7 linked regions of the Homo sapiens genome follow. The protein of the gene in region 2 interacts with the protein of the main gene of each other region in a pairwise test. Each region holds a gene or a part of one and is shown on either strand. Other genes may lie near its edges. The genes, in order: SYT17, FAM9B, STK3, NOTO, FASTKD3, RAB17 and DAPK2.

Region 1 (3,500 bases), on a different chromosome or scaffold from region 2:
GAGAAATACTATTCTTTTTATCATCCCATTTCACAGATGGGAAATCAAGGCACACAGAGATCAAACCACTTGCCCAAGGTCACAGAACTCGAAATAGTAGTTGAGACCACAGAGCCTGGATACAGAACCATTTTGCTATGGAAATATTTGATACTTGCTTCTAAGAAGAGAAAATGAGAGGCCTGAGGCATGAGCCCCCAGCTTGGAGGGAAAGATGGGACACCAGAGACTTTTGGAATCTCAGGCCAAGGACTGAGCTGAAACAGCGCTGCCTCCTTCCACTCTGCCAGGCTCCAGCTGTGGGTCCTGGCCGCTGTCTGTCTCCCTCTCTGGGCCTGCCCCTCCGAAGCATGACAAGCTCACTTGATGACTTCTTGATCCTTCCCAGCCCCGACCTTCTTGACTGTACCCAGGCTCTCTGACCACGTCCCTCTCTCAGTCACGGAGAGGTGGACCAGGCACGTGGCTGAGAAGCTTCAAAACTGCGTTCCCAAAATATCTGAGCGACTGGCAGATGGAGATGTTGTATGCAGGCGCGGGAGGAGAGCAAATTAGAAATAAAACGAAAGATGCCAGAGAGAACATAAACAGCGTTGGAGGACAGGATGGAGCCTGGAGGTGCTTTTCTGCTTCCCTGTTTCTGAAGTTCTTGTTCGGAGCAGCAAAAAGGCACTTGTTTGTTCATTCCGTCTACCCATCCATGCAATGGATATTTATCGAGCTTTTACTATGTGCAGGCCCTGGGCTAAGTGCTAGGGAATCTTGTCACGCTGACTTGGATGGAAACCCTCAGAATGCGGTCAGCCCCTGAAGAATATAGAGGCTCGGCTCACAGATCTCCTTTTCTGCTCGGAACCACGCTCCACGTGACTAAAAACGCCCACACGCTTAGCATTACACGGTTCGTATCTCAGAAGGCCCGATGTGCCACTAGGTGAACTAAAACCACACCACCAGCTGGTCTCGCCAGCTTGCCGAACAAAATGAGGGGTACAGAACATATCCCCAGTCTGCAGCAAAGTTGTCCCTGGAAACTCAGCCTGCTTCTCTTTCATGCCCCCAAATCCTCCCTCCCGTGGCCCAGACCCCCAACCCGCCTTCTCATTAAAAAGGAAAAGTCTTGAAATTGATTTCAGAGAAGTTCAGAGCAGTTTTACTTACAGCCAGGGAGGGGTCTGAGCAGGGAAAGGTCCCAGAATTTCAACTTCATCCTCACTTGACTGGCAACAGCTGGACTCGTAGCACTTCTGACAGCAGTGCCGGCAGGTCCATCTGCACAGCAGCAGACCAGAGATTCTAGAAAGAAAACCCTGAGGCCATTGGGGGAGGTGGGCGGGGGGATGGGGGAGAGGGGAGGTGGGCAGGGTGGGGAAGAGGAAGAGGAGAAACAACACCCAAAATTACAAGCAGCCGATCTCGGATGAGAAATAGACATTCAGGAGTTCTGGCTCTGCTGCTCAGCACTTAGAACAAAATGTTTTCCATTTCTATTTACCAACTGCAGGCACAAAGATAGCAAACATCAACTCGCTGGAGCCGTTAGTAGCAAGCAAAACATTTGCAGGTATTTTCTTTTGTAGTTTATGTGAACGTCTTTCTTGACATGTGGGTGGTTTATACAACATCATAAGGGCTATACGATATGTTCGAAACACAATGAATATTACTGTGTCTTCTTGAAAGCAGGGGAAAAAATATTTTTAAAAAATCTCGGTGACATGAAACAGACAGAGATAATCAAACGGAATAAGTAGGGGTGGAGAGGGAAACTTGTCTTGTCAACTGGTGTCTTTTCAAAACCGGGATCTCCTTTCGGTAGAAAGGAATGGAAACTGTGCCGTTATTAACACCAGGTTATTGTTGAATATTCAATATCCCCACAGCCCCACATAAGACTCCAAAATGAAAGTCAGGCATTTCTTGATTAGAAACCAGACCAAACAAATCATCAAATGAACCCACCTCGTTTAATGGTTCCAACTGCCCTTTTAAGATCCACGATGAAGCCAAGGGCGTAAGGGAACGAAGGGGTTAAAGAAAGAGAGACAAGACCAGTTTAGCAATATTCCAGCAACTCAAAAAAATTTTACAAAAAAAAAAAAAAGCCCTGCATATTTCCACTTACCATCCTGGGAAGGGAGCTGACTTCCTAACATCCTAACAAGGTGTTGCTATTTTCAGGGCTGCTGGTAGCCTCCTGGTTAACCAACACCAAATAAATGGGAAACTTTAGCATTTCGATTTGATTTGCACCGTATGCTGTTATGAATCAGAGCGGGCGGATAGATAGTCATGCTATCCAATGCAGCCACACTTCAGGAGAAGAGCAAACCTTCCTATACAGAAATAGCCATGTAGCCAACCCAAAAGGACATGATTAGCTAACATGCAGGCAGGCACACAGTGGATGTTACTTGGCTCCCCCGCCCTCCCGGAGGCCCTACCTTCCAATTCTGCTCCAATGGTGATGGTGGGGTGTTTCCTATCACCACCCACAAATAGAGGGAACTAAAAAGGAAGCCCTAATCTGGTCCTCTTGAGGAAGGAGGTCCTCCCTTCCTGTTGTGGCCCCACCCCGCCTCCCCATCTTCGTCTCCTGGGTTCTCAAGGCACAGACTCCCTCCTTCTCTTTAAGGTGGTTTTCCAAATGGGCCAAGTAGGCTAGATAGGTTAGAAGTACTGCATCCCAACCTCGGGCATGTCCCAGAGGTGAACTGAGGTGGGACTCAAACTCAGAACTTTGAATCAAGAGGGAGAAAGTTATTATCTTTTTTCCGATTCTCCTTTAAGGAGGAGAAAGTCTCAATTTGGTACCACTACATGTTAACATCTTTTACCACTTACCAATTTCCACCCTCCCCCATCCCCTTTCTTTTAAACAAAGAAAGTAGATCTTGTCCAGAGGCTTGGAGACAGCCACGTCCACCTAGAATTCAGTAATGTGGCATTATTCCCATTGGGTTTATTCTTCTAGTTGCCTTCTGCGATGTCACATGATCTTGGTTTCCTATGATATTAGTGACATAATGTTTCCTTTTCATATGATTTTTTTAAAGTAAAAATAAAAATGAGCCCATTTATAGAAAAAAAATTAAGTTAATAATAGCATAGGTAGGGCTGGGCGTGGTGGCTGATGCCTATAATCACAGTACTTTGGGAGGCCAAGGCGGGTGGATCACCTGAGGTCAGGAGTTTGAGACCAGCCTGGCCAACATGGTGAAACCCCCTCTTTTCTAAAAATACAAAAAATTAGCCAGGCGTGGTGGCAGGCGCCTGTAATCCCAGCTGCTGGGGAGGCTGAGGCAGGAGAATCACTTGAACCTGGGAAGCAGAGGTTGCAGTGAGCCGAGATCGCACCACTGCACTCCAGCCTGGGCGACAGAGTGAGACCCTGTCTAAAATAATAATCATAATCATCATCATCATCATCATCATCATCATCATCATCATAGTATAGGTGGTACGTGGCTTGTGAAAAAATTGAAATCCTCGAAGTGGTA
Region 2 (3,996 bases):
CCTTTAGAATGCGAGTTTATCTCATTCATATTTCTTGCTCAACAGATTCACTTGGCCTTAATTCTGTTCTTTTATGTTATGTTATGGTCTCTGTAGTATTTTCTTTATTTTCCAACTTTTACTACAGGATTTGTATGCTTTGTGTGTGCTCTTTTTGGTTATATAGGCATTTAAGGCTGTGGATTAGTTTTCCTGATGACTGCCTTTATAATTTCAATAGTATAATGAAACTCTGTATCTTGATTTACAAACTTTAGGCAATATTTATTCACTCCCAACTCCGAAACAACTCTCTCCCTATTACAGGGGATCGGAGGTGGGAAAAAGCTGAGTTAACGATAAGTATTAAGGCATTAATTTGTGGGTGAAGGTTGTGGCATATGTCTGGATAAGTCTGGAGTATGAAGGTTTGTGGGCAAGTCTGGGGCATGAGGATGAGAAAGAAAAGTAGTGAGGAAACAAAAAAGGTTATGGGCTGGGCACGGTGGCTCACGCCTGTAATCCCAGCACTTTGGGAGGCCAAGGCATGCGGATCAACTGAGGTCAGGAGTTCGAGACCAGCCTGGACAACATGGTGAAACCCTGTCTCTACCGAATATGCAATAATAATAATAACAACAACAACAACAACAACAACAACAACAACAACAACAACAGGGCGTGGTGTTGGGCTCCTGTAATCCCAGCTCCTCGGGAGGCTGAGGCAGGAGAATCGCTGGAACCTGGGAAGGGGAGATTGCAGTGAGCTGAGATCTTGCCACTGCACTCCAGCCTGGGCAATAGAGTGAGACTCAGTCTCAAAAACCAACAAACACAAACGATAAAAGCACAATCCATTGATTAAAAAGGACGCAGCTGGGCATGTTGGAAGCACACAGGGCATGGGAGGGAGCCTGGGCTCCACCCACAGGGTGATGGCCATTCTAGCCAAAGGGGCAGGGGTGGCTGGAACAAGCCCCAGGGCGAGGTTCTAGGCCCTGTCCACTTGGCCTCCATCCCAAGTCCTTGTGTCTCTCCCCAGGAGGAGAAGCTGAAAGATTGTGGGGACAGAGGCCCCAAAGGGCCACCCCCACCCCAGTCCACAGCAACCACGGGCTGTCACTTAGGGGAAGGGTGAGGGCGTGCCAGCAGGGGGCCTGGCCCCACACAGCCCGTCACACGCATGTGCACTGAGCCGACCAATCAGCGAGGAGCGCAGGAAGTCCTGCCTGCAGCTCTCACGAGAACTGAGGACCCGTTTTCTTTACTTTTCTTTTTTTTTGTTTTTTTGTTTTGTTTTTTTTGGGACGGAGTCTGGCTCTTGCTGCCTAGGCTGCAGTGCAGTGGTGTGATCTGGGCTCACTGCAACCTCCGCCTCCTGGGTTCAAGCAATTCTCCTGCCTCAGCTTCCTGAGAGGACCCGTTTTCTAAGAGGTCCTAGTGGTGCCGCTGCCTGCAGGTTCTTTGAGGGCGCCACATCAGGGGTCCCTCAGGTGAAGCACTCGTGGTGGGGAGGCGGGAACGCAGGCACGAGGCCCTCTGGGAACCAGGGTGTGAAGCGCTGGGCAGCCCGCCGACCTGTGAGGAAATGGCCCCAGCGTCGTCGCCTGGGGCCTGGGTCAGGGCGAGGCCCTGAGGGTGGGCTAGGGTGGGCTGGGGTGGGCCAGGGCAGGGAGGGAGCTGGAGCTGCCTGGGTGATCCCTAGGGCCCGGGAGGGTCCTGGGGGCTTGTGCATGTGTTGGGGGGAGGGGCCGAGGGGGGGAGAAGTGGGAGTGAGGCGGGGGTGTTGTGGGGGACAGTCTGAGTGGGGCCCTCCTGCCTGGCCGCCCGACAGGACAGGACACTTGGGGTCACCGGGGGTCACCGGGGGTCCCCTGTGCGTCCAGGGGGGCGAGTGGCAGTGCAGCCCCTGACATTCCCCTAGAGGTGGCTGGGGAGATCCTGTGTCACCCAGCGGCCCTCCCAGCCACATGGGGTCGCTAGGTGACTCAGAGGTAGGGCTGAGTTCTGTCCCAAAAGGGCGGCGAGGATCCCGCAGAGGCCGTGGAGTTCAGGTGTGAGGGGCAGCTGTGAGCTTTGCAGCCAGCCCCGGGGACGGGCTGGACGGGCCAGGACAGGAGGGGACACTGGCATCTTTTCCGTCCCTTCCTGCTCCCACATGAGACCCAGGGCGGGCCAGCCCCACCCTTCTTGAACCTGTGATCCCAATGGCTTTCCTTTCCGATGCCAGGTTTCCTTAGCTTCCTTAGTGTGTCTTTGCGCTCACCAGGTTCGGGGATCGCCTCTAGCTTCCCAGGACAACCAGCCACGGATCCTGTGGGCAGGAGGGCTGCCAAGGCCCAGTTGGAGGCTCAATTTATGGCGGCCTGGGGGAAGAAGCATGCAGGTAAATACAGCCCAAGGGGACCCAGAAGAAGGTGCACGCCCAAGAGGACGGTCTGTCTGCTTTCTGCGCTGGGGGCACAGGGGCAGCCCGAGGCCCCAGGCCCCTTCGTGGCTCTGGAGTCCATTGTGCACGTGCTAAGATGCGCCAGGTTTTCAAAGCAGGCTCAAGGGCCTTAGGCTTCCCCGTGGAAGGCTCCCCCTCATAGCAGGGTTACAGATGCTCTCAGAGCAGCTCTTCTCCATGGGTGCAGTCCTGACATCCAAGGGGTCTGAACTGTAGTACGTTGTTTACTGGAACCTGAACCCGAAGGGCTTCCAAAAGTCCCTCGATAAAATGGTCAGGAACCGGTGATTCCATGTATAGCTCTGCTTTAAAGCTTTAATTGGCAGAGAGCCCCCCCCCCCCAAAAAAGTCTACAACTAGTACATTTCTCCACAAAAAATGTCCACAGCAGCATCTTCCTCTAAAAAAGGTTTGTCTTTTACATTTTAATGCAGGAAAGGATCCAGTCCGTGATGAATGTGAGGAAAGAAACCGTTTTACAGAAACAAGGGAGGAAGATGTAACTGATGAGCATGGGGAAAGAGAACCTTTTGCTGAAACAGATGAACACACGGGGTAAAGTGTTTAAGTCACTTTTGCCTGTCGGATAGGGTCTTTTAGGAAAAGTCAGCTTTGGACCATGTCATCACTGTTCTATTCTATGCAGAACATTTCACATAAGACATTTCTTTTCCCAACAAACATGGCATTTTGTGTAGTATTTTGTTAAAATTTTGATGTAACTTTTTTTACAGGGCTAATACCAAGAAGCCAGAAGATACTGCAGGTATGTTTTAGGAGTTATCTGTAGTTTATGAAAATTGTTTTCAGTCATACAACTGTTGCAGTAGGTTATATGAATTAGTGGACGACAAGACTGTCTTAAATGGCTTCTCATATGTAGCATTTAACGTACGTATTTAATGTAATCTATTTGATAAATTTTTCTTACCTTTTTGATTGTTGATGTGGAATGTGAGAATGCTTCTAATAATGGTGAAGCGAGATGGATGGCTTTTCTTTCATACATGTGGAAATTTAATTGTTTGGAGGATATTAGAGGACAGTGGAGGAGAAACAGCTCTATTCGTTCCTTTTAGTATACACAGATTAAGTCATATATCAATGGTTTTTTTTAGCTTTTACTTTAAGTTTGGGGGTACATGTGGAGGTTTGTTATGTAGATAAATTGCATGTCACAGGGTTTTGGTATACAGATTATTTTGTCACCCAGTTTATAAGCATAGTACCTGATGGGTGGTCTTTGATCCTCACCCTCCTCCTACCCTCCACCCTCAAGTAGGCCCAGTTGTCTGTTGTTCCTCTCTTCCTGTCCGTCTGTACTCAGAGTTTTTAATATGAGTTTTTCATGTTCCTAATTTAGCTGTTCTATTGTCACAGCTTTCTGATTTTGTTTTCTTTAAAGTACAAGAGAAAATTGAATTTTCTAAAATCATTTTCTATTATTATTCCAGTAATAAACTGTGTAGTAGAAAAGTAAGGACAACTTTTCTACCTAGTGAGAAACATGTAATTGGCTCCAAAAACTCATAAACTTTATATTGCTGTGTGAAATATTAGTTACACTC
Region 3 (3,500 bases), on a different chromosome or scaffold from region 2:
TTGTTGGAAGGATAAATTAATAGGGTGGACAGATGAATATTATCCTTTATTGATTATCAACTATATTTAAAACACTGCTAGGCATGTTTTGAATTTACCTAATACACACACCTGCACATATACACACAACAGAGAGACAAATATTTATCACTGAAACTCAGACAGAATTAAGCAACACAATTACTAAATGATTTGGCTTCACATCCCATGCTCTTCACTATACCACATCATTTGTTCAGAAAACATTTCATGAACTCTTACCAAGTGCTAGGTATTGTATTAGGTATCAAAAATACAGTGGGAAATAAACAAAAGCACACGCTCACAATAAAGCATGACAGTGCTGTAAGAGTGAAAGCTTGGGGTGAGATGGGAGCCTATTAGAGGGGCACTTATTCCTAACCTGGGGTTGATAGAGGAAGCAACCTCTTAACTGAGCCTGAGTGAATGAATATGATTTAGCAAAAGAAGCATAAATCCCACAGGAGGATTTAGGCATTGCAAGTGGCCAAAGGTAAAAAAGCTCTGTAAGAGCTGAGAAGCTGGAAGAAGGATGAAGAGGGAATAGAAAGGTAAGTAGGAACCAGAGCATATACTGCTTCTTAACTGGTGTTGAGCTTTAGCCTATAAGCAATTGGTAGTCACTGGGAGGGCATAAGCAGAAGAGAAATGTGCTGAAATCTGTATGGTGGGGAGGGAATGAAGATTGGAGGCAGAGGATCAGTTTAGAAGCCTCACAAGTGAGAAACTATGAGGACTTGCACTAAAGAAATGCAAGCAGAGATCATGAGAAGAGAATAGGGATATTTAGGGGGCAGAACTGATGAGATGTTACTTCCATGAAGGGTGAAGGAAGAAACGGAAATTAAGAATGACTCAATTTTTCAACCTTATTCCAAAGACCACATTTAAAACACCTATACAGCTTCTCTAGGTACTTGCATGATAACATTTCACTTTTTTTCTGTAAAGTAGGGAGCAACGTCATCTACTGAAACTGAGATGGGAGGCAGGAAGAAGAGATCTAGTGAAGATCTAAACTAGCCACTCTGTAGAATGAGGAATTGCTGAACAGAGAAACACAGGCCTCCAGGAAAGTTGAGGGCCCAAATGGGGGAGAAGGTCTTGATCTGGCAGCCCTCATCTGTGCAGATGGAAGATTATCTCCAGCAGCACTCAATAGCCAGGGTAAAGATGCAGAGAAGATGAACACTGAGACTGGACCATATCAAAGTTTTCCAGGAGAGGCAGAAAAGACAAGACATTAGGGCAGTGGAGTTTAGAATATAAGAGAGTGGCAGAAGCAATGAAATATAGCCTCTAAGAGGAGTTTAGAACATAAGAGAGTGGCAGAAGCAATGAAATAATGAAATATAGCCTCTAAGAGGAGTTTAGAACATACGAGAGTGGCAGAAGCAACGAAATAATGAAATATAGCCTCTAAGCTGGATATAGAAGTGAAGGGAGGGTGTGCTAATAAAAAGAAAGCAGACTAGGAACTAGGGTCAGGGAACTAGAGGGCTCTCATGATAGCATTTCCCAAAATGTGTTTCTCAGATGCTTATTACACAGGATGTTAATCACTGATACGTTCCTCATTAAAAGCTTTTCATGGTCAAATAAGTGAAGGAAAGTTTGGGTAATGTAATTTTTAAACTGTTTCCTTCCTGTACTATTTGTATTTAATAAGTTAATAATATATACTGTAGTTCTCTAATAATTTATCTCTAGGATAAATATGCATTTCCCAAATAATTCTGATTACTGTATATTATTTATCTATATTTATCAGAGAATTTCACTGAATGGGTATCTTAAGGAACACATTTTCAGAGGGTCTGCTCTGTGAAATGAGAAGCAGGGATGGTAGAACACTTGAAAAGAAAGTATCTTACCAAGGCAGGAGGTTTACCTGAAAGTTCTCTTAGCTTCCAGAGCTATGTATCTTTAATTCTACTATAACACACACACACACACACACACACACACACACACACACACACACACAGCTTGACTCTGACTCTACTGTAATTAGTATTCATTCATGAAACCAATATTCCAAGAGCATGTACTATTATGTGGCAGAGGAGATTTATACAGCATTCTTACCAGGACAAACTTCGTGACTTATCTGGAGAAACAACAGATACACACATGAAAAATAAAAACCTGGCTGGAAAATATGGCTCTTCCTCAGATACCCATAAGACATAGTTTCCCTCCAGGGCAACTAGTGCTACCAATCTAGCCACAGCTCTGTAAGATCAGAAAGTTCCTCCATAAAAACAGAGCTAACTGAGTAGATCTGAGCTGAACAAACTAAAAAGCCCCAGTCTTTCTTTGCTGAAGCTACTACTCTCCCAGAGTCACCCATGATGAAATAATCTCTCCTACCCCATCAGTTTGATGACATAGATTCTTGACCTGGTCCTAATCTACTCCAGGATAATAAATCCTAAATTGATTTTCTTGAATGACAACCAACCTGCTTTTACCCAGTGTCAAGCATTCAGAATTCCAACTGGCACAGACTAGTATGGATAAAACATAATCCATAAGGAAGAAGTAGAGATCCACATGTAAATAATGGCTAGTGCCAGACTGTGAAGGATCTTGGTGACACAGCTGAAGCCTGGACATTCCATGGGGAATGAGGAGGCCTTAGGGATATCTGAATAGGAAGACTGGGAGCGGGAGGGTAAAAGTAATGCCATCATTGCTAAAAACAGGTTTAGAAAGTTATTCTTGGGACATGCCCATAGGGTCCACGTCCATTTTTTAAAAGGCAGATCAAATTTTAAAATACTTTTTGTCATTTTTCTCCACTTCCCTTCAAAGGGTCTGTGGGTAATTTTCCTTTCTAGAGGTAAGGAAAATAGGCCCATAATTTCTAGCTTCATGGTTAAAGGTATAAAAGAGTAAGTGTAAACATAATTTAAACTGACAAGGATGTTAAATCAGGCAACTCACTTGAAACTCCAATGGAAAAAGAGATGAAATTCTAAATCTTCAGTACACATTGTAGAGATTTTAGAAAACCAAAAATAATATACTGCTATCATCTTATTAGGGAACAAAAATGCTAAAGACACATTAGCAAATGTGGCTTTGACTGATGTGACATAAGCTGAGACCTCATACCAACTAATTTAAGAAGTTTTAAAGATTTAGATCACGAGAAAAACAAAACTACAATAATTATATGGTTTCAGAAAAAGTAAGTCTTCCCTCAATAACTTCTTCACATACTTTACTACTGCTATACTACAATATGACAATCCCTAGGGGTTATACTAACATCACTTGATTAGAATTTTGGAAACACTGAAGTCTCACATTACAGAATGATGTCTAACTTGTAAAAACAAAAAACACAGAAAGTTGGCTCATGGGATTTAAAATTTGCTGAGGTCCATAAAACAACTGCAGCTATAAAAACCACTTATCTGTTCAACTTCAAAATTGGTTTTCACTAAAATCTCTGTGACAAAAAGTCATAC
Region 4 (3,500 bases), on a different chromosome or scaffold from region 2:
CCTCCTAAGTAGCTGGGATTATAGGCACCCAGCTGATTTTTTTGTATTTTTAGTAGAGACAGGGTTTCACTATGTTGGCTGGGCTGGTCTTGAACTCCTGACCTTGTGATCTGCCCACCTCAGCCTCCCAAAGTGCTGGGATTAGAGGCGTGAGCCACCGCACCTGGCCACATCTACTTAATTTTACTGGCAGGTCCTTATTTAGCATGGAAATCCTTTATTATCAATTTTTAGACTAATAATCTAAGTTAACATTCCAAGTTGTTCACATTATGTGACTTCAAATGGGACTTTTTTTTTTCATTATATAGAGTGTGCAAAAAGTCAGGGCCTGTCCCCTCAACAGCCTGGCACAGGGAAGAGGGCCCATATCTTCCTCCCACCCTCCTTTTAGGGCCTTGCTGAGGTAGTGTTTGTCCCCAGGTGCAGCCCAGGCCCAATAGGAGTCCCTACTCCCACCTGGTTCTCTGTAAGTTTGAGCCGAGCTGCCAGCTGGGCTCTCTTCTTCCCCACCAGATTGTGCTGTTTTGCAAACACTTTCTCCAACTCTTCCAGCTGCTCCAAGTTAAACATAGTTCGGACTCTCTTTTGCTGTCTCTCAGTGTCCTGTAGGTCCTCCGTTGGGGCCCAGTCTGGGAAGGCCCAGAGTCCTGAGCAGTGAGCCAGCTCCAACCCTAAAGAGCAACCAGCAGCAGGGGAGGTTATCCAGCAGCAGGGGAGGTTAGCCAGAAGCCCCCTGCACTCCCATCTGGGCAAAATGAGAAGGCACACACAGCTCTGCTACCTTGCCTTCCCCTTGGCCAGGTAACAGTGCAAGAAGACAGTGGAAAGAGACTGTGCAGAAATAACAGGAAACAAACAAATGGGAAAGAAGGGACAATGCAATGAGACTGTCTGCCACCACTACTCTCTAGCCAAGTGGCTTCACTTCTGGCCCCTAAGAGGAGTTGCCAAACCTCCCTTCTCTTTGCCTTCCTTTCCTCTCCTTGACTGCTTCTGGCAACGCCATGGAATGGGCAGAGAAGAGACCCCCAGGGGTTCACCCTTTTAATTCACTGAACAAATATTATACTTTTTGAATGTCTACTGTGTGTCATGCATGGTTTCAGGACAAAACAGAAAATCTCTGTCGTTATGGAGCTTACATCTTAGAAATGAGGTCAGAAGAGATAGAAGTCAGAAGAGAGGGTTGAGCTGAGGATACAAATTTGGGAGTCATCACTGAGCACGTTGGCTCATGCCTGTAATTCCAGCACTTTGGGAGGCTGAAGGGGGCGGATCGCTTGAGATCAGGAGTTCAAGACCAGCCTGGCCAACATGGTGAAACCCCGTCTCTACTAAAAATACAAAAATTAGCCAGGCATGGTGGCACATGCCTGTAATCCCAGCTACTCAGGAGGCTGAGGCAGGAGAACTGCTTGAGTCCGGGAAGCAGAGGTTGCAGTGAGCCAAGATAGAGCCCACTCTACTCCATCCTGGGTGACAGTGCAAGACTCTGTCTCAATTAAAAAAAAAATTGGGAGTCATCAGCTTATATAGATGGTATTTTAAGCCACGGGAATAAATGAGACCAAGCTGTGGGCCAGTGGAGATGCATCAACCAAGAGCAGTTCCTAAGTCAAATCTTGATGGGGATGAGGGAGTGAGCCATTGGGCTATCTGGGGGTATAGTATTCTAGGCAGAAGAATGGCAAGCATAATGCTAAGGCCACTCAGCCCCCACTAGCCTTGGGGAGTCCTCAGGGCTGGCAGACAGACTGCCCCAACAAAGGGAGTGTATCTGGGGTCCCGGCTGCTTAGGACTCCAACCACTGGGCCCACTAGGCTTACACTGTGCCTGCCAAGGTAGACCAAAAGATCAGGAAAAGCCCATCAGACATACAGCCTGGTGTATCTAGTCAGCCTTGTTTCAGAATCAGAAATTGACCTTTGGAGAAGAAAGTAGGCTGTACTGTGTGTTCCTTAAGAGCTCTAGTTGAGGCCGGGCATGGTGGCTTATACCTGTAATCCCAGCACTTTGGGAGGCTGAGGCAGGCGGATAGCCTGAAGTCAGGAGTTCAAGACCAGCCTGGCCAACTTGGCGAAACCCCGTCTCTACTAAAAATACAAAAATTAGCCAGATGTGGTGGTGGGCACCTGTAATCCCAGCTACTCAGGAGGCTGAGGCAGGAGAATCGCTTGAACCTGGAAGGCGGAAGTTGCAGTGAGCCAAGGTTGTGCCACTGTATTCCAGCCTGGGTGATAGAGTGAGACTCTGTCTTAAAAAAAAAAAAAAAAAAAAAAAAAGCTCTAGTTGGAATCCTAGCTCTGCCACCAATTACCAGCCAGAGGACCTTGGGCAAGACAATGTACTTCTGTGAGCCTTGATTTCCTCACATGTAAAATGGTGATAATAATCCCTACTTCCAGAGATGTCAGGATTTTAACATGGTGCTGTCTAGGCACAGTGGCTCATGCCTATAATCCCAGCACTTTGAGAGACTGAGATGGGCCCATCGCTTGAGCCCAGGAGTTTGAGACCACCCTGGGCAACATGGTAAAACCCTATCTCTACAAAAAATACAAAAATTAGTCAGGTGTGGTGGTGCACAACTGTAGACCCCGCTGCTTGGGAGACTGAAGCAGGAGGATCACTTGAGCTCGGGAGGCAGAGGTTGTAGTGAGCCAAGCCGAGATCACTCCTTGCCAATAGAGTAAGACCCCGTCTCAACAACAACAACTACCACAACAACAAAAACAAAAGCATATGATGCTTACAGGGTGCTTAGCACTGTGCCAGGCACAGAGCAAGAAGAAAGTCAATGGTTATTATAAAAATTAAAACAGAAGTGATAATCCAATGGGGAAGAGGGATTATTTCCAGATCTGGGAAAAATTAAGCTGGATCCATACCCAATACCTTGCACTAAAAAAAATCTAAATGGAGGAAATATTTAAATGTAAAAAGGTAAACCCACAAAAATTTAGAAAAAAATGGGGAAGTTATTTTATGACTTCACAGTGAGGAAGTTCTTTCCAAGTATCATATAAGATGTGGGGCCAGGCACAGTGGCTCATGCCTGTAATCCCAGCAGTTTGGGAGGCTGAGGCAGGAGGATCACTTGAGCCCAGGAGTTCAAGATCAGCCTGGGTAACATTGTGAGATTCCATCTCTACAAAATAAATGTTTTAAATTAGTCGAGTATGGTAGCGCATGCCTGTGGTCCCTGCTACTCGGGAGGCTGAGACAGGCATTGTGAGATTCCATCTCTACAAAAAAAAATGTTTTAAATTAGTTGAGTATGGTAGCGCATGCCTGTGGTCCCTGCTACTCAGGAAGCTAAGGAGGAGTGCTTAAGCCTGGAACATTGAGGCTGCAGTGAGCCGTGATCGCACCACTGCACTCCAGCATGAGTGACAGAGAACCTGTCTCAAAAAAGAAAAAAAAAAGGATTTGTAAAAACACATCAAACATAAAAATTAAAATTTTTTCTATGTAACAAAAGAATACCGCCATAATC
Region 5 (3,500 bases), on a different chromosome or scaffold from region 2:
CTTTTCCTTACGGTAAATCTCACTTCCACTCACAGCACACAAAGAGAAAAAATTTCCTCCATCTGTTAGAAAACAAAAGGTCTCTAAAGAGCAAAATATTTTCATTTAGCAGATAACTATGACAAAATACTTAAAAATAACATTTATTCATTGAATTCCTTTACAGCACATGATCAATTGTTTGATGTACAAAAAGTATCTATGACACTAGTATTAAATTAAAATTAATTTTAAATTTTACCACAATAAATGTATACATAGTATAAGGAAAACTACAGATGCTTTCAGATCACCAGTCTAGAACATATTCTGCAAAGTGGCTAATTCACATTATATTTTTCTTTTAATACTGAGTTCCATAAAAATGCAAGTTCTTCCATTGTTTGAGTTCTGAAGTCAGTATTCATTCTTGCAACCAATGAACAGTGTTTTGAGAAAACAGTTTTCTTTGTAAATATTCCACCAATTCACGTCTTGATTTTAGCATCCCAATCTCATGATAGGGGATCTGTAAAGGTAGAAAAGTAAAACTGGTCAAGATCCTTCAAAATCTGAGGTTCCTCTGGCTATTGGTTACTTTGTTTGTTTCTTACACGCTTCCCCACAGCGGAATGTAAGCTCCTGGAAGGCAAATATCCCAACCAGCTTCTTCATCCTGTATCCCCAATGTCTAGAACAGTGCCTGGCACTGAGAAGGGGCTTGGTAAATATTTGATGAATTAATATGTAGAATATGCAAATAAGAATTAAACATGATCTCTTGTTCTCCAGGAGTTCACAACTTGGGTGGCAAGTTAAATTACACAATAAATATAAAAAACAAGCTGTAGGTTGGTGATCTAGTGCTAAGAGGGAGTGAGCATTTCATTAGATGAGGGTGGGGATGCCGACAAACTGCTGGAAGGTAGGTATTCAGAGAGCTGGAGGACGCAGCAGGGACAAAGAGGGAATGAAGAGGGAGAGAGCAGGAGGCGCAGCAAAGGAGAGAGTCTGCTCAGCTGGGAGCAGAGGGGCCAGGTAGTAATCATGTGCCTGCAGCCTGGCTGCAGGCCAACCATTGGAGGGTCTTGAATGTTAAGATGTAGAGAAGTTTTTACTTTATTCTGTAAGCAGTAAAGAAACATTGAAGCTTCTGAGTAGACACTGGCATGATTAGTTTTAGGAATATTCAGCTGGGGATGTGCAAGATGGAGAAAAAAGTCAGCAGATATGAAACCACAGTGCTGCCTAGTACTGACAGCTTAGAGAATTAGGGCAGCGCTCATTCTCACGCACTGCTGAGCCCTCACATAAGACCTTCTTACATTATCTACAGTGAAATATTTAAAAGGTCTTAAATATTAAGTGTTGGTGAAGCTCCTTATTTTAATGGATTATCTTGTTCATTTTTATTTATTAAATCAAGGAGAAATTAAAACAGAACATATATTCCAACAATTGAGTAATTCTAAAAGCAGGGTTAAGCATAGCTTATAATGAATATAGGTAGGCCCCACTTTTGAAAAATCAAAGCTCTGAAAATTCTGTATTTCAAAATATAAGTCAAGAGATTTAAGCCGAATTAACAACGTTGGGATTTAAACTAGACGTAAGATCGGTGGTCCACTGGGCTGGCAAACCAGTTAGTACTGTAAAAGCAAATTAAAATGGAGCCTGTGCCTGAAAAATCCCTGAGCAGACCAAGCCAGTTGGGCCTTGAAAATAACCTTAACTTTGCTTAAAGTGCAAATGTTAAGCAAAATTTAACTTGGGCTATTTCTTGTAGAAGCTTCTACTACAGAAAAACAGAACTTAAGCTCAACCAATCAGAAGCATCTCACAAACTAATAATTATATAACTAGGAACTTTCCACAGAATAGTTCAAACAAGGCAGCAAGAATATGTAACTGTAACCAGTCAAGTAGATTCTTTGTGTACTTGTGTTCTTCCTATAAAAGCCTCCCTCTTGGGTTCCCAAGCCATTTCGAGTTTTGTGCTGTCCAGTTCAATAATTGCTGCCTGATCAAATTCTTTAAAATTTTACTGTGCCTCAGATTACTTTTTAAAAGTAACCTGGAAAAATAATTTTGAAATAGGATTTGCTTTTGGGAAACAAAAAAAATAGGTGAAACCGTACCTGAACAACTTGATAACCGAGTAACTGTAGGTGTCTTTGTTTAATAGCTTCTTTCCCCAGTAAGTGTTTGCTATTGGAGCAAAACCTTTTTGGACCATCAATACACAGTGCTATCCTGAAAAATAAAAAAGGAGAAAAATACTTAATTTTTTAAATAATCCAAAATATTTATTATATATTTTAGTTGCCAAAGTTTATTTGGGATTTGGCTATTACTATGTGCCAATATTATTTTCAAATGAATCATGAATTTGATCTTATTAATATTAATGTTTATAAAATATTACAAGGAATTTCCCAACATGGTATTCTGAAATGTAGTATTTTAATTTCCAGAATCATATCTATTTTTTTCACCTTCTTGAGAAAAAGATACCGCTGCTTATTAGCCTCAACGAGTCTTGTAATGTGAAAAACACAACATTTTCCTGTACCTTTTATGGATATCTTCATTAGCTGTGGATGGCAATACAAATCCTTCTTCATCTAATTTAATTTCAACATCTGGTGAGAGAAGAAAGGAAAAATTCCTCGTGTGATACCCTCACAAACACTATCTTCCTGTATTCATTCCTTTGCTTTGCTTTGATTCCTTCCACCTTGCATTGATCAATTGGACTGAAGGCTGCAAAGTAATGACCACAACCAAACAATGGTGAGAATTTTAATTCAATTGGCTTTATGATCAATCAAGTCAGCCTTAAATTAAGAAAGCTCAATAACGCTAAACCACAGAATGGGTTCTGAAGTTATCTGGGGTATGACAAGAACCATGCATGCTTTCTCTTTCCCCTTATGATAGGTGGCAGAGATCCTTCAATCCAGACTGTGAAGAAAACCCTTGAGTTAAGACATTAGACATCTGTGCAACTCATAACTTCCATCATTCCAACTTGCAGTGCCTCCATGGTAAGTAAAGAAAGCATGCCACACCCAGACACCTGGTCTGCGAGCACGGAAGGCTTCCGAACTGTCCTTCCCCTCTGGTAAACTGCAGTTCCCTTCGTAAAGAGAAGAGAAGTGACCATCTGAAGCCTATGAACTGCTGTCCTTTACGAGAAGGCTTTCTTCTGCTCATCAAGTTAGAAGAACTGTAAGGACGGAGGACTTGGAGTCTCTTGTCAGTGCTGTCCAGGAGAAATTTCTGTGATGTGGAAATCTTTATAATGGTGCTGTCCAATTTGGCAGCCATGAGCCACATGTGGCTACTGAGCACTTACAATGTGACTGAGGAATTGAATTTTCTTAAACTTTTAATAATTTAAATTTAAATAGCCACATGGTCTAGTGGCTACTATATTTGGACAGTACAAGCCTAGGTTATAGTAGTAGCTAACAATTAGTGAGCATTTCCTACGTTCCAGGTACTATTTTATTTAGACC
Region 6 (3,500 bases), on a different chromosome or scaffold from region 2:
TGTGGGCTGAGCACGTCCAAGCACGTCTCAATGAATCCAAAGCACCCTCCTACGCTCCAACCGGGCATCTCGGAATCTCTCAGCCCTGCTTGCGCTCACCTAGTGAGTGCCTTTGGGCGCTGGCTCCTGCAGGCTCTGCTAGGGTGGCGTCATGGAGTCCTTCTGTAAAAGGCCCTGTAGCAGATACTTTAGGTTTTACTGGCCATGGGGTCACTGCTGCAACCACTCAACCCTGCTGCCATTTTAGAGTGAATAGAGGAGGAGGAACAGCAAGAATATCATTTACAGAGGGTAAGTACCTGAAGAGGTAGAGTTGTGTCTCCACAGAACCTTACTCACAAAACAACAAGAACAGCCAGAGAGCCACAGTGTGCAGACCTCCGTGTCAGAGTGAGATCCATCCCCAGTCCAGCTCACCTGGCCTGACACCTGCTGCCTCTCTCTGCATCTTGAATACCAGCCACCCAGGTACAAAGCTCTCAACATCCAGGCCTGGTGAGGCCCCCATCTGTGTGCTCTATTCTCAACTGAGGCCACCCTCAGGCCAGCCTTGGCATTTTGATGTATTTTTAAAGGAAGCCAAGTCCAATATCAGGACTTGGGGGGTGAGGGGTACAGATCTCCTTGCTAATGGAGAAGAGGATTGTACTGCACACCACAGGGTAACCTTGACTCTCTCCCCAGGGTCCCCCTCTGCAGACAGCCTCTCACCATCACCCTGGCCCTTCTCACCACTAGCTCTGGGAGTCGGGCCAGGCAGACCCCTGCCAATTCCCCTGTATCCCCTGGGGATCCTTCAGGAACCACCCCCCTGAGAAAATGGAAGGGCTCCCTAAATAGCTAACGTCATGTGCCACATCTTGCAATTGTGTTTCTGTGTTTGGTGCATCTGTTTAGCTGGTTATAGAATCCATCCCACCTAACGCAGGCCTGCAAAAGGGTTCATGCTCAACAGATGCCTGTTAGATGAGTAAATGAATGAGTGAATTTGGAGATGTGCAGCTTATCCATGTCAGAGTCCGAATTTGAAACCGAGGCTCTGATTCTGCATGTGTTCCCCCAGGGGGAATGGGCATAAAGAACACGCTGGCTTTCCCCATTTCAGGTGAAAACTGGGTTTCACTGCCTAGGCAGACTGTGCCCACAGCAGGATGGGAAGGAGGCCAGCAGCCTGCAGATGCCCCATACAGTTACTCCTGAGCTTCATGACAGGTTAGCCTTTTTAAGAAACACAGAGAGAAGGTCTCCCTCCCCGCCCACCCCCAAAATGATCTTCCCACCCCCAATCCAGGCCAAGCTGGTAAACCAAGTCCAGGCAGGAAGGAAGATGCTGTTGGGGTAAATAAAGCAAGGGAGCAGTGTTAGCAGGAGGGCGGCCTGGGTGGTGGGAGAGGACAGCTGGTTTAGGCCGCTGAGTGGCCAGGGCCCAGGAGGCTTCTTCCGGGCTGTCCCTTCCACCAGCATAATCCCTCGCACCCAGCCCGACCCTTTGGGGCCAGAGGTCCTACCCCAGAATCTCCACCCCCTGCAGACTCCAGCTGAGCTGAAACCTGACCCAGAGCCAAGGGCATTTCCTGTCTTTGTAGATTCTGTGGCTGCCCTCTTGGACCTCACCCCCTCCCCTCACGCACTGGACACAGGCAGCTCAAGGTCCCAGCATGGGGATTCCTAGGTGGGCCTCGTCCCCATCTGCCCCAGGTGTGGGTCAGCAGCCCAGACTTCTGCACTGAAGACCAACAAAGGGGTGCTCTGCCCTCACTTACAGCCCACCGTAGGCAGGATACTCTTGAAGTCGTTCTTCACGTACCGAAGAGCCAAGCTGGACTTACCCACGGAGCCACTTCCCAGGAGAACCAGCTTGAACACACGGGGCTGGCTGGGGGCAGCCCTGGGCTGGGGGGTCCTGTGTGCCTGTGCCATGCCCTGCAAAGAATCACAACCGTCTGAAGCAAGTGGAACATCGGAGCCACATCATCTCAGCAAGCTCAACCCCGGGGCTGCTTCTCGGTCAGGAGCAGATGGCCCAATACAGAGCTCCCAACTCAGAGGCCACCTAGGTCCACACTCCTGCTTCCCTCTGCACCCCATGCCCCATCTCCCCATCTGCAATTTTTAGGTCCATTTTTAGGTCTGTGGTAAGGAACAAAAGGAGCTTTGCTTGGAAAGCTCCGGGCACGGGTCATTGCAGACCCTGAAAAGCAATGATTACATGTGACGGTCTCAGGGCTTGTTGTCCTCCTTCCATTACTTTCAGTTTTTACAAATCTATTACTTGTCCCCAAAGTATCTAATGCAAGGAGAGGTAAAAAGCATCTGAGCATTTCTTGGGTGGTTGTTCATGGATTAAAGTTGGTGTTTCAGAAAAAATCTACCTAAAAAAAGGTTGGTGTCTCAATGATCTCAAAACATCGTAGACACATTCCCATTGTGTCTAAAGCCTCAGAACCCACAGTAATATGCCCCAGAGAAAACCAACTTCGTGATCAAAATAAACGTGGGCGACCCCTGCGTATTTTTCATCATAGAAACTTTCATGTACACACCACAATAGAGAGAACGGTCCGATGGGCCCATAGACCCACCTCCCGCTTCCCCAGTAATCAGCTCAGCCATTTGTATCACTCACACTCCCAAACCTCCCCCTGCAGGGTACTGTGTAAAGCAGATCCCAGGCATTCTATCATCTGCAAATCTCAGTAGAGATACAGGTATTTTTTTTTCTTTGCAGTTCATGTGTTGAAGAAATCAGGTTGTCCTGTAGATTTCCAGTACGGATGTTGCTGATTACACCCCTGTGTTATTGAATAGAGTCCTATGAACTCTGTATTTTTGATACCGCGGTGGTTCAGGACATAAACCTGATTAGATACAGGCTATTTTTTGGCAAGATTGCCATGAGAGTGTGCGTGCACTTCCCACAGAAGGCAAATAATGTCCAGTTGTCTTTCTGTGATGTTGGCAGTCACTGAAGACTATTACTTCGACCCACTATTTTACTAAGGGGTTGCAAAATGGTGACATTCTAATAATGTTCTAATGTTATCACTTTGTGTTTATTATCTAGGAAGAGAAGCTCCCCACAAAAAATATGAAACCCATCAGGGGCAGCTGGTCCTGGGAACAGAGTCTCTTCTCCCTTCCTCACCACAGTGGGCAAGAGGGAGGCTCCCTAAAGGGGGAAGGGGAGGAATTTTGAAAAGGAAAGAAGAAAAGCAGGAGTGGTTGGAAGCAGCCCACATGCCCTCACTGCCGCCAGTAAGGAGCCATGGCCACAGACTGGTCTGGTCTGCCCTGCAGGGATAAGAGGGGAGGGAATCAAGTTTGGAATCAATCTCAAAACAAATAGGACTGAGTCCTAGATACCAAGAAGATCGTTCTAGAGAGAAAGTGACTGAGAGTCATGGAGTCCAGAACAGGAGGGTTTAGGGCTCTCTACCCATCAGAGAAGAAGGGTTCCACATAGTAGACTCGGGTGGTTATCCCAAACATGCCTGGAACCC
Region 7 (4,158 bases), on a different chromosome or scaffold from region 2:
TTTTGTATGTGATCAAAATTTTACATAATTTTTTAAAATGAGACTAATGTGAGACAAATGAGATAACCCATGTGTAATGTTTTAAACGGTCCATGGATAACGTGAATTCCTTCCCTCCTCTTTGTGACTTGGAGCCCCATAAGGGCAAGAATTGTGACATTCCTACCTCTGTCCCCTTGTCGTAGGCTAGTACACAGTAGGCACTATATAAGTGTTGGCTGATTTTAACTTAGTTCCCCAGCCTCCTTTCTCAAGGCCGCTACTCAGATGCTCATCAGGTAAAACAACTGATAGCCACTTCAAGCACTTTCCTAACACCTCTCCTAAGGCGAATTTGCATTTTACCAGTTTAGAAACAAACTAAAGGGGTGAAACTGAAGTGGAATTATAGTCACCAGCTAGGACCCAGATAAGGAGCCAGAGGCACAAGGACCTTTCCAGCCTCGAAAAGCTGAAATCACATGGCAGAGGGAAGGGACACAGTTACAACTTTTGGCCAGAAGCACAGGCCATCAGCTCCAGATGCTCCCAGGATGATACCCACCTTAATGCCCATGTTTCTCCTGATGGAGTCCTTGGAATTCAAATTCCTGCCTACAACTCTAATACCAGGCAACACTTCAGGGGGCTACCACAGATTTCCTAGAACCCCATAGATCATCTATTTAGGGATTTTTAGAACTGCTTCAGGATCACCAGGGTGAGAAGGGGAAGCCAGAGCAGTTCCACGTTATCCATACTATATGTTGGCGTTCTGGGTAAGAATTCACTGTGAAACAGAAGTTTGAAAACCACTGCTGTCTGGTCTAACCCACTTGTTTTTACAAGAGGAAGCTGAGATCCAGAAAGGGGAAGGGACTCACTGAGCATCATACAGGTGACCCATCCCGCTCCTCTTCCCAGGGCTTCTTCTGTTGATAGCCACCCCAACTCCTCCAAGATGTCACCAGGGTTGGCAAAGTCAGTGGCCTCCTGAGGGACAAGCTAGGAGGAGGTGTCTAGGGCTGGAAGATCACCTCATAGGAAACTCTCAACACTCAAGAAGCCCTCTCCACCACTGGCCCAGCTCACTCTGCAAAGTGAACTCTCTCAGTTCCTCATCCCACCTCACCAAGTGCAAGTGAGTGAAACGGGACCACAGCAAGAGGGCAGGCAATGGTTGGGCAAAACACACACGACCGTCTCATTACACACACCCCCATTAGGAATCATCACACTCAGGCTCTGGAGAGGCTGCCAACAGAAGGGATGGGGCTCCGGCATTACAGAGCTCCTCTCTACATTCCAGGCTTTGACCCATCACAGTCTCCAATGAGGAAGCTGGGGCCCACAGAAGGTCAGCCACCTGCCTGAGTTGACACAAGAAAAACTTGGTCTCTCTGGCAAAGATCCAGCTCCCTTGGGAAGCCTGCTTGTTCACCCCACAGCTAACAAATCGGGAGGCCTCAAGGAGGTGGGCAGGGTCAGTGCGGGTCTCATTCCTGCCAGCCAGGAACTTACCCCAGAGGAGCAGACCTCCAGCCACATCCACACACCCCTGACCCCTCTGCCCAAGTCTCCTCTGAAGGTGCTGAATCATCAGTGGTGCCACTTGAGGGTGCTCAAAAAACATCTTGGGAGATGAGCGGTTTGGGGAAGGACAGGGCTGTGAAGTTAGCTGTGAAGAGGCCAAGGCACCACGGCCTCTTAGGTCAACAGGACTCTCCCAGGAATATCTTCCACAGAGGCAGTTGGGAGTCGCAGTGTCAGAAACCAGAGTGGCTGCCCTCCACAGGATTCCAGGATACAAGATGTCAGGCGCTGTCCCTGCACCTGCCCGCTTGCCCCCGAGGCAGCCAGCTATGGTGCCCTCTCCTCCAGTGTGCACCACTGCCTTACCATTACCTGCACGGCCTCAACGAGGCTCACCTCTCTGGACCTTGTTTTCTCTTTTGTAAAGTAAGAATACCAATTTCCACCGTGCAGAGTTACGGTGAGGGTTAGCCAGACCTATGCAAGCCTTGGGACCTCCAAAATGCCTAGCCCAGAGTCCTAGTCAACTGTTGGCAACGCCCTTCCAAGCCGTTCCACCCCAACCTGCAGCACACCTGCTGGCCGCCCCCACGCCCATCCTAGCTCTACCCCAGGCCGGGGCGCCTGACGGCGGGGACCCCAGCTTCATTCAGCCCCAGAGGAAGCTCAGACATCTGAGCACCCTCCTCGCATCACATCCTTGTGCCAGGCGGGAGCAAGAGGTGAGAGAGTCAGCCCAAGCTGAGAAGACTTGGCCGGGAGCCGGGCGTGCTCTGCCCGTTCCAGGGGGCCTAACTCGATGGACGTCTGTCTCCCATCTCCCTGCTGGGTGCTTGGCTCTGCCCGCCGCCTCTACCCTGTCTCCCAGGTCAAAGTGCCAGGCTCCGGAGGGCGCCCCAGGGCAGCGGCGGGCAGCTCCCGCGCTCGGGTGCCGGCCACAATGCCCCGGGCCACGGCGTCAGGCATTGGGGCGGCGGGCCCGGGATCTGCGAGCGAGTGCCCCGGATCTCTTCGCCCCGCCAGCCCCAGACCCGGGCGCTGCTGCCGTCAGGCCGCGCGCCCCGTCCCGCCCATCGAGCCCGCAGACGGGTGCTACTCACGGCGGGAGGCTGAGCTGCCGCGGTCGCGGCCGCGGCAGGCGCGGCGGGAGCGGCGGGCGCGGCGGGCGCGGCGGGCGCGGCGGGCGCGGCGGGAACGGGGGACGCGGCGGGGTGCGCTGGGCTCGGCCCTGCAGTCCTCTCCTCCCAGAGCGCCCGGCACCCGCCCGCCGAGCAGCCTAGGAGCCGAGGGGGCGGAGCGGCCAGCCCCGTCCCAGGCGCCGGCTGGAGGCGCGCCCGGCTGCCCGGGACGGGGCTCGGGGCGCCCCCTGCTGGAGCCCCCTCCGGACAGTCCCGGGGCGAGAGCCCAGCTTCCCGGCCGGGTAGGGGACACCTCAGGGCTCCCAGACTCCCGGGAGAGCGGGGAGAGTCGGTAGCAAGACCCTCTGCGCGTCCCTACCGGCTCTACCGCGCACATGCTGCGTGGCCTTGGGCAAGTCGGCTACCCTCCCCCGGCCTTATCTGGAAATCGATTTGAATGAGCTTATACGTATGACATGGTCTGGCACAATCCTCAGAAAATGGTACTTGTGTGCTCCTCTCCCCACCATACACACCGTGAGCGAGGAAGCCCCACTGAGGAATAGGCCGTCTCCTCCCTCCCAGCCAGAGCGCTCCCTACACCGCAGACTCTCCTGGAAACCTCAAGCCCACAGCGTACAGCAAGGTGGGGGCTGCGATGAGAAGGGCCGCTCTGCTCCTCACTGCCCCCGACCCAGCCTGAGAGCGGCCTGCCCTCGTTTGCCCTTTGTCCTGGCACGGTTGCTGAGTGAAGCCCCCCTCTCACCATCACGCCTTCTCTAATAGAGGACTTGGGAATGGGTTCCTCTCTCTGCCCTCTGCCAAAAAATCCCTGAGGAAAAAAGGAATGAGAGTGAGGGGGTGAAGGGAGGAAGGAAGGGAAAACAGAACTTAAGCCAAGTTCATTTGTCTTATTTCAAAACAAGAGGCTGTTTAGAGGAAGCAAATGAGGACCCCTCCAACCCCTGGAATTTCCATCCCTAAGTCACCCATGGGGCTCCTCAAAAGGGCCTTAGATTCAGAGTCCTACCACCAGGTTCAAAGCCCTGCCCTGCCACTCCGCATGTGTGTTCTTGGGCATGGCTCTTTCTTCATCAGTAAAGTGGGAGAAACGCACCTTCCGGTAGCTCCTAATGAAGCTATGGTGGGGCTGAGATGAGATGGAGTGTGTAAGATGCACCTAGAGGACCTCTACCAGTGTGAGCACACACACACCCTTCAGCCTTTTGGACATTGGGACAAATACAGATGGACCCCACCCCCCAGCTGAGCAGTGCCTCCGGGTCCAGGACATCCTCGGCAAAGAGTTCCTTGTTTATAAACTTCACAATAATTCAGAACAGTGCAGCCAGCGAGCCTCCTCTCCTAAGAGCAGCATGATATATAGAGTAATATCCAAGACTAGAGGTGGTTTCTGATGTCAACGGACCTAAGGGAATGACACCCACTGGTGAAGTTTCACCAACATGAGAAGTCCCCCACCAAACTATCCCTAAACACCTCTTCCTCCATTTCCATTTACCTATCA

Evidence for each region.
Region 1: the proteins of FAM9B (region 2) and SYT17 interact in binary tests that used the Homo sapiens proteins (3 or more experiments, as listed by UniProt).
Region 3: the proteins of FAM9B (region 2) and STK3 interact in binary tests that used the Homo sapiens proteins (3 or more experiments, as listed by UniProt).
Region 4: the proteins of FAM9B (region 2) and NOTO interact in binary tests that used the Homo sapiens proteins (3 or more experiments, as listed by UniProt).
Region 5: the proteins of FAM9B (region 2) and FASTKD3 interact in binary tests that used the Homo sapiens proteins (3 or more experiments, as listed by UniProt).
Region 6: the proteins of FAM9B (region 2) and RAB17 interact in binary tests that used the Homo sapiens proteins (3 or more experiments, as listed by UniProt).
Region 7: the proteins of FAM9B (region 2) and DAPK2 interact in binary tests that used the Homo sapiens proteins (3 or more experiments, as listed by UniProt).

Annotation. Positions count from the first base shown.
Region 1 is NC_000016.10:19,171,240-19,174,739, reverse strand, and holds part of SYT17 (synaptotagmin-17), read right to left. Parts: intron 2,406-3,500; exon of another isoform or gene 2,157-2,405; coding exon of another isoform or gene 2,126-2,156; intron 2,112-2,125; exon of another isoform or gene 1,986-2,111; coding exon of another isoform or gene 1,981-1,985; coding exon 1,963-1,980; intron 1,311-1,962; coding exon 1,162-1,310; intron 1-1,161. UniProt on the Homo sapiens protein: Plays a role in dendrite formation by melanocytes.
Region 2 is NC_000023.11:9,031,328-9,035,323, reverse strand, and holds the start of FAM9B (protein FAM9B), read left to right. Parts: upstream 1-1,196; 5' UTR 1,197-1,472; intron 1,473-2,040; exon of another isoform or gene 2,041-2,202; coding exon of another isoform or gene 2,203-2,337; coding exon 2,338-2,365; intron 2,366-2,862; coding exon 2,863-2,983; intron 2,984-3,162; coding exon 3,163-3,194; intron 3,195-3,996. UniProt on the Homo sapiens protein: May play a role in meiosis.
Region 3 is NC_000008.11:98,542,689-98,546,188, forward strand, and holds part of STK3 (serine/threonine-protein kinase 3), read right to left. Parts: intron 1-3,500. UniProt on the Homo sapiens protein: Stress-activated, pro-apoptotic kinase which, following caspase-cleavage, enters the nucleus and induces chromatin condensation followed by internucleosomal DNA fragmentation.
Region 4 is NC_000002.12:73,205,574-73,209,073, reverse strand, and holds part of NOTO (homeobox protein notochord), read right to left. Parts: intron 675-3,500; coding exon 460-674; intron 1-459. UniProt on the Homo sapiens protein: Transcription regulator acting downstream of both FOXA2 and Brachyury (T) during notochord development. Required for node morphogenesis.
Region 5 is NC_000005.10:7,859,032-7,862,531, forward strand, and holds the end of FASTKD3 (FAST kinase domain-containing protein 3, mitochondrial), read right to left. Parts: intron 3,027-3,500; exon of another isoform or gene 2,920-3,026; intron 2,773-2,919; exon of another isoform or gene 2,743-2,772; coding exon of another isoform or gene 2,622-2,742; coding exon 2,552-2,621; exon of another isoform or gene 2,454-2,551; intron 2,233-2,453; coding exon 2,118-2,232; intron 509-2,117; coding exon 404-508; 3' UTR 128-403; downstream 1-127. UniProt on the Homo sapiens protein: Required for normal mitochondrial respiration. Increases steady-state levels and half-lives of a subset of mature mitochondrial mRNAs MT-ND2, MT-ND3, MT-CYTB, MT-CO2, and MT-ATP8/6.
Region 6 is NC_000002.12:237,584,235-237,587,734, forward strand, and holds part of RAB17 (ras-related protein Rab-17), read right to left. Parts: intron 1,924-3,500; 5' UTR 1,921-1,923; coding exon 1,764-1,920; intron 1-1,763. UniProt on the Homo sapiens protein: The small GTPases Rab are key regulators of intracellular membrane trafficking, from the formation of transport vesicles to their fusion with membranes.
Region 7 is NC_000015.10:64,043,686-64,047,843, forward strand, and holds the start of DAPK2 (death-associated protein kinase 2), read right to left. Parts: upstream 2,801-4,158; 5' UTR 2,613-2,800; intron 1-2,612. UniProt on the Homo sapiens protein: Calcium/calmodulin-dependent serine/threonine kinase involved in multiple cellular signaling pathways that trigger cell survival, apoptosis, and autophagy.